Regions from separate parts of the Homo sapiens genome. Here region 2 is linked to region 1. The links come from fine-mapping of genetic effects on gene expression. A gene starts in region 1. The other region holds a variant in brackets. All regions are shown on one strand. Distances are between the middles of the regions.

Evidence for each region. PIP is the estimated chance that this variant, and not a neighbour inherited with it, causes the effect.
Region 2: its variant is the best candidate, but not a certain one, in a credible set for the expression of ZFHX2 in prostate (GTEx, PIP 0.72).

Annotation. Positions count from the first base shown.
Region 1 is chr14:23,548,547-23,553,912 of GRCh38, reverse strand. It overlaps ZFHX2 (zinc finger homeobox 2), which reads left to right and starts at 2,148. Exons shown (of 10, transcript NM_033400.3): 1 at 2,148-2,570. It also overlaps a transcript of THTPA not described here. RefSeq lists enhancers at 1,795-1,844, 2,694-3,356 and a silencer at 1,975-2,214.
Region 2 is chr14:23,525,292-23,530,657 of GRCh38, reverse strand. ZFHX2 (zinc finger homeobox 2) reads left to right here. Exons shown (of 10, transcript NM_033400.3): 5 at 464-538; 6 at 890-948; 7 at 2,854-3,054; 8 at 3,685-3,811; 9 at 3,979-5,366. It overlaps LOC124903289 (a long non-coding RNA gene), which reads right to left and starts at 644. Exons shown (of 2, transcript XR_007064079.1): 1 at 574-644; 2 at 1-212. It also overlaps a transcript of THTPA not described here. RefSeq lists an enhancer at 5,081-5,366. The variant T/C (reference allele first, on the strand shown) is at 3,095.

The DNA.
Region 1 (5,366 bases):
TTTGTTTGTTTGTTTGTTTGAGACGGAGTCTCGCTTTGTCGCCCAGGCTGGAGTGTAGTGGCGCCATCTCGGCTCACTGCAAGCTCCGCCTCCAGGGTTCATGCCATTCTCCTGCCTCAGCCTCCCAAGTAGATGGGACTACAGGTGCCCACCACCATGCCCGGCTAATTTTTTGTAATTTTAGTAGAGATGGGGTTTTACCCTGTTAGTCAGGATGGTCTCGATCTCCTGATCTTGTGATCCACCCGCCTCCACCTCCCAAAGTGCTGGGATTACAGGTGTGAGCCACCACGCCCGGCCTGTTTTTGGTTTTGAGACGGAGTTTCACTCTTGTTGCCCAGGCTGGAGTGCAATGGTGTGATCTTGGCTCACCGCAACCTCTGCCCCCCGGGTTCAAGCGATTCTTCTGCCTCAGCCTCCCGAGTAGCTGGGATTACAGGTGCCCACCACCACGCCCAGCTAATTTTGTATTTTTAGTAGAGACAGGGTTTCACCATGTTGGTCAGGCTGGTCTCGAACTCCTGACCTCAGGTGATCTACCCACCTCAGCCTCCCAAAGTGCTGGGATTACAGGAGTGAGCCACCATGCCCGGCCAGCCTCTGCTTTTTCATTGAGAAAATGTGGCCTGCCTCACAGTTACCTGTGAGGATTCAGTCATAAACTGTCACATAGTATAAACTCAAAATGTTCATTTATCTCTCCTTTTTGTCATGTGAACTTCAGGGTTTTGTTGTGTTGTTTAAGAGAAGTAGGCTATAGCAGTTAGTATGGGCCCTGGAGCCAGACCATGGAGGTTTTTGAGTCCTGGCACTGTCACTTACTTATTGGCCATTGGACCTTGGGCCTGTTAATTCACTTGTTTGTGCCTTAGTTTCCTCAATAAATGAGACTATAATAGCATCTACCTCATGCTTGAGGTATTGAGAGGAGTAAACAATGTATGTAAAAGTGCTTGGAACTGTCCCTGTGCATTCAAGAAATCTTAAAAATTATTATTAGAATACAGGAGCGGCCGGGTGAGGTGGATCACCCCTATAATCCCAGGACTTTGGGAGGCTGAGGCCGGTGGATCACCTGAGGTCAGGAGTTCGAGACCAGCCTGGCTAAGATGGTGAAACCCCCGTCTCTACTAAAAATACAAAATTAGCAGGGCATGGTGGTGGGCACCTACAATCCCAGCTACTTGGGAGGCTGAGGCAGGAGAATCACTTGAACCTGGGAGGTGAAGGTTGCAGTGAGCCGGGATCATGCCACTGCACTGCAGCCTGGGCGACAGAGTGACTCTGTCTCAAGAAAAAAACAAACAAACAAAAAAACGGGCTGGGCGCGGTGGTGGTTCACACCTGTAATCCCAGCACTTTGGGAGGCCGAGGCAGGCGGATCACAAGGTCAGGAGTTCGAGACCAGCTTGACCAACGTGGTGAAACCCCGTCTCTACTAAAAATACAAAAATTAGCTGGGTGTGTTGATGCATGCCTGTAATCCCAGCTACTTAGGAGGCTGAGGTAGGAGAATCGCTTGAACCCGGTGGTGGAGGTTGCAGTGAGCCGAGATCGCACCACTGCACTCCAACCTGGGCGACTGAGTGAGACTCCGTCTCCAGAAAAAAAAAAAAAAAAAAAATTCAGGAGCACTTAATAAGCGATAAACTGAAGATGAGGAGGAGCCCGAACCTCCCCCAACCCAGCTCAGGGGACTATGTAACCGTGTGGAGGAGGCAGAAGCTCTCAGAGACTAAAGAGTAATTGCTGCGGTAGAGAAGGTTCTAGTACCCAATTTCGCGGGGGGAGATGGGGGAGGCGGAATAATAAGGCAGGAAGAAGAGAATGAAAAAAGGAGGCCTTGGGCGGCTCAGGGCTTGTTCTGAAGCTGATTTAAAACAAAACAACAAAACACATGTATGGTTTCTGCAGGCCACAGGATGAAGAGGAGAGGAGACGGAAAAGAGTTTAAAGGGGCCTGCCCTCTTTGCAGGCACCGGCTTGAACCTGGAGGCGACCTGGTGGGCTGGCCGGCCTGCCCCCGGCCCTGGGTCCCGCGAGGCAGGCGGGCGGGCGCGAACAGACTACAACTCCCGGCATGCGCCGCGGCGGGCGGGTCGCTGCACCTGCTCAGTGGGGCAGCCCCGGGCGCCTGGGTATTGATTATTCCATTGTGTGGGACGCCTAGACTCCAGCCAGTGAATGAGGCGGAGGAGTGAGGGCGAGGAGGAGGAGGAGGAGGAGGGCGAGGAGGAGAAGGAGGAGGAGGAGGAGGAGGCAGGGAGCGAGCGAGTGCCCAGGGTGAATCAATGGAAACCCCCTCACGAAGCCGGGGAAACACTTCAGCCGCAGCCAAATAGCATTGATTATTTTCCTTCACTTCCCTCACCGCCGTGAATTTATTTATTTATTTTTTTCCGTCTCCGTCCCTGACGCCCCGGAGCGAGCGCTGGAGGGAGGGAGGAGGAGGGGAAAAAAGAGGAATCAACACATCGGAGAAGTCCCTTCCAAGAGCCGCCCCCTCCCCTCCCCGCCTCGCGCTGCTCGGTGGCCGCGGTTCGACTCCCGTCCCTGCTTCCAGCTGAGGTGTAAGTGCATCGATTTCCGATGCTGCTGGGTTGGTTTTTTTCTCCTCTCCCTCTCTCTCTTCTTCCCTTCCTTGCTCTTTGGAAGCTCGAGACGGGAGAGGAGGCGCTTGGAGACTGCCGCTGGAGGGGACGGAGAGGGACGGGAAGGGGCTGGGGGAGGGGACAAGGACGGACGGACAGACAGACCGAGAGCCCTGGGAGATAGCAGACAGGGGTGTGGGAGGAAGAGGGCGTGCGCGAGGATGGGGGAAGAGAGATGCGGGGGTGGAGGGAGAAACGGGAACGGGAAAGGCAGAGGCCCGCCGGACAGACGAAGGGTATGGAAAGCCTAGACGGACCGCGCCGAGTTGGGCAGGGAGCGGGGATCCCGGGGGGAAGGGGAGGCCCGGTGAGTGTGAGGGCTCAGAGCTGTCAGCCTGGAGGGTCCTGGGTCTCGGCGGCCCCCCGCCGGCTGTGGGATGGGAGAACCGCGGCCGGCGGGCTGATGGATGGGCTAGCGCGCTGGGGCGTGGAGTGGGAGGGGACGTGGATACTCTCAGTCTTCGTTCGTTTTTGGCTGAAGTTGGGCTTTCCATTCCTTTTTTTGAAAGTGTTGAGTAGGTGAGGGGAGGCCATAAGCCCATTCAAGGTGAAGCGTGTCTGTCCTGCACGCCCATCCTACCACCCCCATCCGCTCGTCTGCCCCTCTGAGCAGCCCTATCATTTTCAAGCACAGGACCACGCTTCCTCGCTGTGCCTGTAGCCCCGCTGATCTCTGTCCATGTGTCCCTGACTTTTGGTTTTGCTGTTCTTCATCTTGTCTCTTCCATCCCATCCATCTCTGGATCTGTATGTCACTGTCTCCACTTGTGACCCTTCCCATCTGAGTGATCCTCTCCTTGTGTGTCTCTATCACTATGTGTCACGCCTTGGCTGCCTGTTCTGTCGGTCTAGGATTCCATGCCCTCTCCTTCAGAGTCTGTCTGGATATCTCTGGCCTTTTCAGGCTACTTTGGAATTTGCTTATCAGTCATGATTGTGGTGGTCACAGTCAGGGCCTGGAGGAGTGGGATGATGGAGCAAATGTGTCTTCGCCAAAGCCTCTAGTGCCTTCAGCATGGCCAGGACAGCCTCCTCTTCCACCATCACCAGAGAAGCTTTGGAACTTCCTAGCATTGTTGACTGTCCCCTTTGCCATGTGCCTGTCTCCCTCATCAGAACCTCACCTTCTGGTCTCATGCGTGTCATCTGCCTTTCCAGGAGCTTCGCACAACAAAACCTCTTCCCTGCTGACTTAATTTTACTCCCTTCCCCCACTGTATCATTGTATATTTTTTATTTCCCCATTTTGCTTCACCCCTTTTTTCCATCTGTTTCCCATGAGCTCTGAGTTTCCACCTTTGTTCCCATAATCTGCCCTCTTCCTACCTTTTCTTCTTGATCACCCTAAGTTTCTAGTTTCTTTTATCCCTTTTCCTCTTATCCAGCATTTTAACCCCAGCAGCAGAAAGTACCAGCAAGCAAAGGGCTGGGAGAGGTGTGGGGTATGGTTTGTGAAGGCACATAAACAGGCCAAGAAATAAATTTAATGAGCTTCCAGGGGCATATAACCCCTCCATCAGTCAGTGCCATTATGTCAGTTAACTGTCAACTTTGATTTTGTAAGGGGACATTCCCTAGGACTCTAAGCTCCACCCTGCCTGGTTGCCCCCCATCCTTCAGTTCATTCTAGATATCAGTTGCTTTTTCTTCACTTTTTAGTTCATCTTCTTCCTAGGCCCCTGCTACTATCATATTTAGATCCAGCACCATTTTTTTTTAATGAGGCAGTGTTTATTAGTGTAATAAAAGCTATCGTATGTAAGGAGCCAAGTTCATTTAGCCTGAAGAACAGTAAGGGTGGATAAAGGATCTGGAGAGTTTACCTTAGTTTTTAGCCCATCATTGTTTTTCCAAACCTCAGGAGCTTGGAAAGGTAAAAGGAGCAGGCAGACATGGGCAGAAGATGGACGATTTCAGAGGTGAACAGAATTAAAGAAAGAAAGGGGTGGTCGGTGCAATAAACACATGGGGTAGAGAAATGTATGACGTGAGGGATGTGCAAAGGAAGGGAGGAAAATCTATGCGGACTCGGGGGCAGGGGAGGAACCAAGGGGTGATTAATAAGAAATTGGAAGAATGAAACAAAACGTGTTGATAGCAATACAGAAGGTAAAAGGAAGAGAAATGATAGAATATTCCTAAAGTGGAGGTCAACAGAAAAAGCACTATGAAATTAATACAGTAGTAAAGAGGGGGAAGGGAGGAATTGCTGAACAAGATGAGATGGGAAGAGAGTATGGTACAAAGAAGGTAAATGGATGGCAAACGAAGGAGTGCTGAGGCAGATCAGAGCTGCACAGAGCTTGGTAGGAGGAAAAGAGGAGAGGATGAGGTATCAAAGGAAACAAATGCCTCTGGTGTGAGGAGGACACAGCGTGACTGATGCGAAGAGAGCGAGAGCACTGCGGGGGCGCCGGGGGGTTGGAAAAAAAGCATAGCACAAATAGCAGGAATACCACTGGGCGAAGCCCCAGAAGAGAGAAATGCCCAAGAGAGGGAGAGAAAGCAGAAATATCCAGGGAAGAGACAGAGAGAGAGAGAACCTCACGAGCATTCATTTCATTGGCCTAATCACTCACTACCCCCACGAAAGGCCTTTGTATTTCATTCCCAAGCCAGAACACAAGCAAAGAGATGAAAAAGTAGAATTCCCATAAACTTCAGCTGAGAGGAACTTGAATCTTCCCAGCCCCTGAGAACCAAAGACCTCAAGCC
Region 2 (5,366 bases), 23 kb after region 1:
TCCTACACATCTGTCAATTCTTACTTGAGCGGTAATCTCCTCTTCCAGCTAGACCTGCCACTTCCTGCTCACTGCAGCAGCTGCTTCCATTCAGCCAAGGCTTCCTTCTTCAGTGCCCCTCCTACTACATTTCTCTGGGGCTTCCCATTTCCTGGGTCATTTAAGACAGGGAGCTGAGTTTGGTCTTGTTTCTGCTGTCTACTGCTGGACTTCTATAAAAGGACAGGAACTGGACTCTTAATAAAATGATCTCTTAGGCCCTACCAGTTCTAATACTGTAATTTTCCCTCTATCTTCTGTGTGGGTGTTTCTTTTTGTTGGCTTTTCATACTCTCCTACCTGCTGATTGAGCCATCCATTTTCTCCTTCATTGACTGGCTGCTTGTCCTGCTTCCTCTGTCCTATGTCCTCCCTTCCCTGATGCCACACCTCTTTAAGCTGACTCTCCCCCCATCCTACACAGGGAAGGCTCCTGTCACCCCCTTAGCTGAGCCACCCACCCCTGAGAAAGATGCCCAGAACAAGACAGAACAATTGGGTGAGTTTTCCCTCCCTTCCCCCCAGTCCTCCTACCTTCTGAGACGCTCACGGGACCTTGCAGTAATCCAGGAGCCCAGCAATGTCTGTGCTCAAGGAGCAAAACTGATTAAAGAAAGGGCTCATCAGGGGGAAGGGAGGCTGAGCCACGAGAGGCTAGGCACTTCCGCCCTCTTTGAGAACTCAGACCTGACCATCCTACTGACCCGGAGTCAGCCCTTGCCAAGCCTCACCTATCTACTGAGTTTCCTGCCCTTTCTCTAGTGCCCAACTCCCTACCCTGGAAGCTCTCTGCTACAAATCATCTTGAGGGCTGTCAGGGTTCCTTAATCTCCTCTTCTTTCATCCTCAGCTTCAGAAGAGACAGAAAACAAGACTGGCCCTTCCAGAGACAGTGCCAACCAGACCACGGTCAGAATTGGGGTAACTGGGAAGAGCTGAAGTGGGGGCCTGGCTTTACTGAGATCTGCTCATATTCTAAAGGCAGACGTAATTTTGTCATGCTTTGACTTATTTCACTCAGAATAGCACAGTTAAGAAATTCCACCCAGATCCAGTTCCACATGTTCAGCACTTTCGGGGGCAGAGCTGGCCCAGCAGGGTCAAGCACAGAGGGAGATGATAGGAGGGAGACAGCAGGAACTTGAGGGAAAGATGAATAAAGGAATTGTGCTGAGAGTAGGAAAGAGTGGGGGTACATGCTGGAAGGAGGGGAGGAGAAAGGCAAAAGCAAACAACCAGCTACTGCCCAGCTCTTTATCCCTTAGTTAGGAGCAGAAAGACAAGACACCGGTGTTCCTACCCTACAAAACGCCCTGAGCCTGGATGGAACTGTCCTGGCATCCTCTTACTAAGGGTAGGGGCACCAACCAAATGATTCACACTGACAGCATGTGCCACAAATCTCTAAATCCCCAGGACTCAGACCTAGGCAGCACCCAGGAATGGCAGCTCTGTGTTCTGAGGGGATTCCCAGCCTCTGGTTTGAGATGCCATCCTGTGCCTCACAGCTCTCCAAACTGGACTACAATATGTAACATTTATTGTTATTGCAATACGCAGTGTTACTGCATTACTGCAAGCTGAAGTAATGCCTTATGTCCTCAGCATCTTTTCTTCCTAACTCCTGCTCCCGCCAACAGACCTCTTCCAGATGTCTGCTCCAGGGGCTAGGTGCGTTAAGATGAGCATCTGGATCCCCTTCCTTTACAGTCATCCCCTCCCTGACACACAGGCCTGTGCCACTGGTGCCAGCCTGGATGCAGGCTGGGTAGGTCTGGCAGTCAGGTGATGGTGGGGCCTCTGGCAGCCTCACCCCTCTGGAAGTGTGGCTGAGAATGTGCTGAGAGGGCTGGGCCAGAATTTTCCTGGGCCACTGGGGGAGCTGTGGTGTTTATTCACATTAGGAAAAAGAAGAAGGAAAAAGAAAGATGGAAAATAAGGTGGGAGCTGCTGAGCCTGAGGGAGGATGAGCTGGCTTCTGAGCAGACAGGTAGGGCCCCTTTCCAGGTGATGGTTCACAGAGGCAGAGTGGGCAGGGACAAGGGAGCCTCTGGGTCCAGAAAATGCCCAGAGGAAATGGAACCATTTCACAGAGAAGACACGACAGGATAGGATAGGTAAGAGAAGAAAACTAAATCCAAGGTGGGGGCAGTAGGTACAGAGCCATCTGTTAGCTGGAGAGTTGAGGCAGGCAGCAAAGACTGGGAAAGACACACCAAGAAAAGGCAGAGAGGCCAGGATGGTGGAAGAGGGCCAGACAAAGAAGGAGTGCAAGGTAGCGGCCTAAGCTAGGCCTTTGTCCCAATCCAAGGGAAAGTGGGGAGGAGCCAGCTCTCAGGACTGTGGCTGGAGGCTGGGTCTGCTATAATGCCTTCCTATCTGGCTAGTTCCTCTTCAATTAGGAGTGAGAGGCCAAGCGTGGTGGCTCACGCCTGTAATCCCAGCACTTTGGGAAGCCAAGATGAGTAGATCACCTGGCATCAGGAGTTCAAGACCAACCTGGCCAATGTGGCAAAACCCTGTCTCCACTAAAAAATACAAAAATTAGCTGGGCGTGGTTGCACACGCCTGTAATCCCAGCTGCTTGGGAGGCTGAGGGCAGGAGAATTGCTTGAACCTGGAAGGCGGAGGTTGCAGTGAGCCGAGATCACGTCACTGCACTCCGGCCTGGGTGACAGAGCCAGACTCCATCTAAAAAAAAAAAAAAAAAAAAAAAAGGAGTGGGGGCGGGCCAGTGCTGCATCCAAAGGACTATGTGATGGTGGGTCCCATCCTTCCCTGACACTTCGTCCACTGCCCATATGTTCCCTCCAGGTATACTGCTGTCCATACTGCAGCTTCCTGAGCCCAGAGTCCAGCCAGGTGAGGGCTCATACACTCTCCCAGCATGCAGTGCAGCCCAAGTACAGATGCCCACTGTGCCAGGAACAGCTGGTGGGCCGGCCTGCCCTGCACTTCCACCTTAGCCACCTTCACAACGTGGTGCCCGAGTGCGTTGAGAAGCTGCTGCTTGTAGTGAGTACAGGCTGGGTGAGGACGGTACAACAAGACCTTA[T/C]TAGGGCTGTGCAGGAGGGGAGGAAGAGGCAGGGGTATTCAGGCAGGTGCATGTGTTGGGGGCAGGGGGCATTCAGGCAAGTGCGTGTGTTGGCTGGGTGAGGACGGTCCGACAAGGCCTTGTTAGGGCCATCCAGGAGGGGAGGAAGAGGCAGGAGTATTCAGGCAAGTGCATGTGTTGGCAACAAAAGCAGCATTTCATGGATTTGAAGTTGGATTTTAGAGAGGGAGACTCAGAACTGAGCTTGTCTAGCTGCCTCTACTTAAGAGATGAGGCAGAGGCTTCTGTTTCACCTCCACTAAGTCCTGAGAAGAGTTGTTGAACAGCAGGTACCAGCCTGCCAGACCAGGTAGCCTCAAAGAATGATGACTTCTGGTTTGGGGAAAGAGGAAGCCAGATAGGAGAGGTAGCAGCCCAGGCTCTCTCATCTGTAGCAAAAGCAGCAATTAGGTGGGAGGTTTGTTCAGACAGGAGGCTGGATCTGTGGCAAGGGATCTCGGCACAAGTACAGGTGTAGGGCAGATGGGTCAGGAGTGGCATAGGGGCAGTGGGGGGTGGTGGTGAAGCCACTAGGCTTTTTCTCATTGCAGGCTACAACTGTAGAAATGACATTTACAACCAAAGTGCTGTCTGCACCCACATTAAGCCCTCTGGACAATGGCCAAGAACCCCCCACTCATGGGCCAGAGCCTACACCGAGCAGAGACCAGGCAGCAGGTAAGGAATGGAACAGCAAACCTCCCAAGGTACCAGGAAAGGGGACTCCATGGGCCAACAAGGTCTGAAGATGACTGAGGCCAAGGTCAACTGCCTTGGTATTGAGTGGGTGGGGTCTGGCTTAAACGAAGTTCCCTCCTCATTGTACTTTCTTCTCTCTCCCCTAGAAGGCCCTAACCTGACCCCAGAAGCCAGTCCAGATCCTCTTCCTGAGCCTCCCCTGGCCTCAGTTGAGGTCCCAGACAAACCCTCAGGAAGCCCTGGCCAACCCCCTTCTCCAGCCCCATCTCCAGTCCCTGAACCTGATGCCCAAGCTGAAGACGTAGCTCCTCCGCCCACCATGGCTGAGGAGGAAGAGGGGACCACTGGGGAGCTCCGCTCTGCAGAGCCAGCTCCAGCTGACTCTCGCCACCCTCTGACCTATCGGAAAACCACCAACTTTGCCCTGGACAAGTTTCTCGACCCTGCCCGGCCCTATAAGTGCACTGTGTGTAAGGAGTCCTTCACCCAGAAGAATATTCTGTTGGTTCATTATAATTCTGTCTCCCACCTTCACAAGATGAAGAAGGCTGCCATTGACCCCTCTGCCCCTGCACGGGGAGAGGCCGGTGCCCCACCCACCACCACTGCTGCCACAGACAAGCCCTTTAAGTGCACAGTCTGCAGAGTCTCCTACAACCAGAGCTCCACCCTGGAGATCCACATGCGGTCAGTTCTGCATCAGACTCGCTCTCGGGGAACCAAGACTGATTCCAAGATTGAAGGGCCAGAACGCAGCCAAGAAGAGCCCAAGGAAGGCGAGACAGAGGGGGAGGTGGGCACTGAGAAGAAGGGCCCTGACACCAGTGGCTTCATATCTGGATTGCCTTTCCTGTCCCCTCCCCCACCTCCCTTGGACCTGCACCGATTCCCAGCCCCTCTCTTCACCCCACCAGTCCTGCCCCCCTTCCCTCTGGTGCCCGAATCACTGCTTAAGCTCCAGCAGCAGCAGCTGCTCCTGCCCTTCTACCTCCACGATCTCAAGGTGGGGCCCAAGCTGACACTAGCTGGGCCTGCACCTGTGCTGTCCCTGCCAGCTGCCACCCCTCCTCCTCCACCCCAACCTCCCAAGGCTGAGCTGGCTGAGCGGGAGTGGGAGCGGCCCCCCATGGCCAAAGAGGGTAATGAGGCAGGGCCTTCCTCACCCCCCGACCCATTGCCCAACGAGGCTGCCCGCACTGCAGCCAAAGCCCTTCTAGAAAACTTTGGCTTTGAGCTGGTGATCCAGTACAATGAAGGGAAGCAAGCTGTGCCCCCTCCCCCTACCCCACCCCCACCTGAGGCCCTCGGGGGTGGGGACAAGCTGGCCTGTGGGGCCTGTGGGAAACTCTTCTCCAATATGCTTATCCTCAAGACACACGAGGAACATGTCCACCGCCGCTTTCTGCCCTTTGAAGCCCTGAGCCGTTATGCTGCTCAGTTTCGAAAGAGCTATGACAGCCTATACCCGCCCCTTGCAGAGCCTCCCAAACCTCCTGATGGGTCTCTGGATTCACCTGTTCCCCATCTGGGCCCA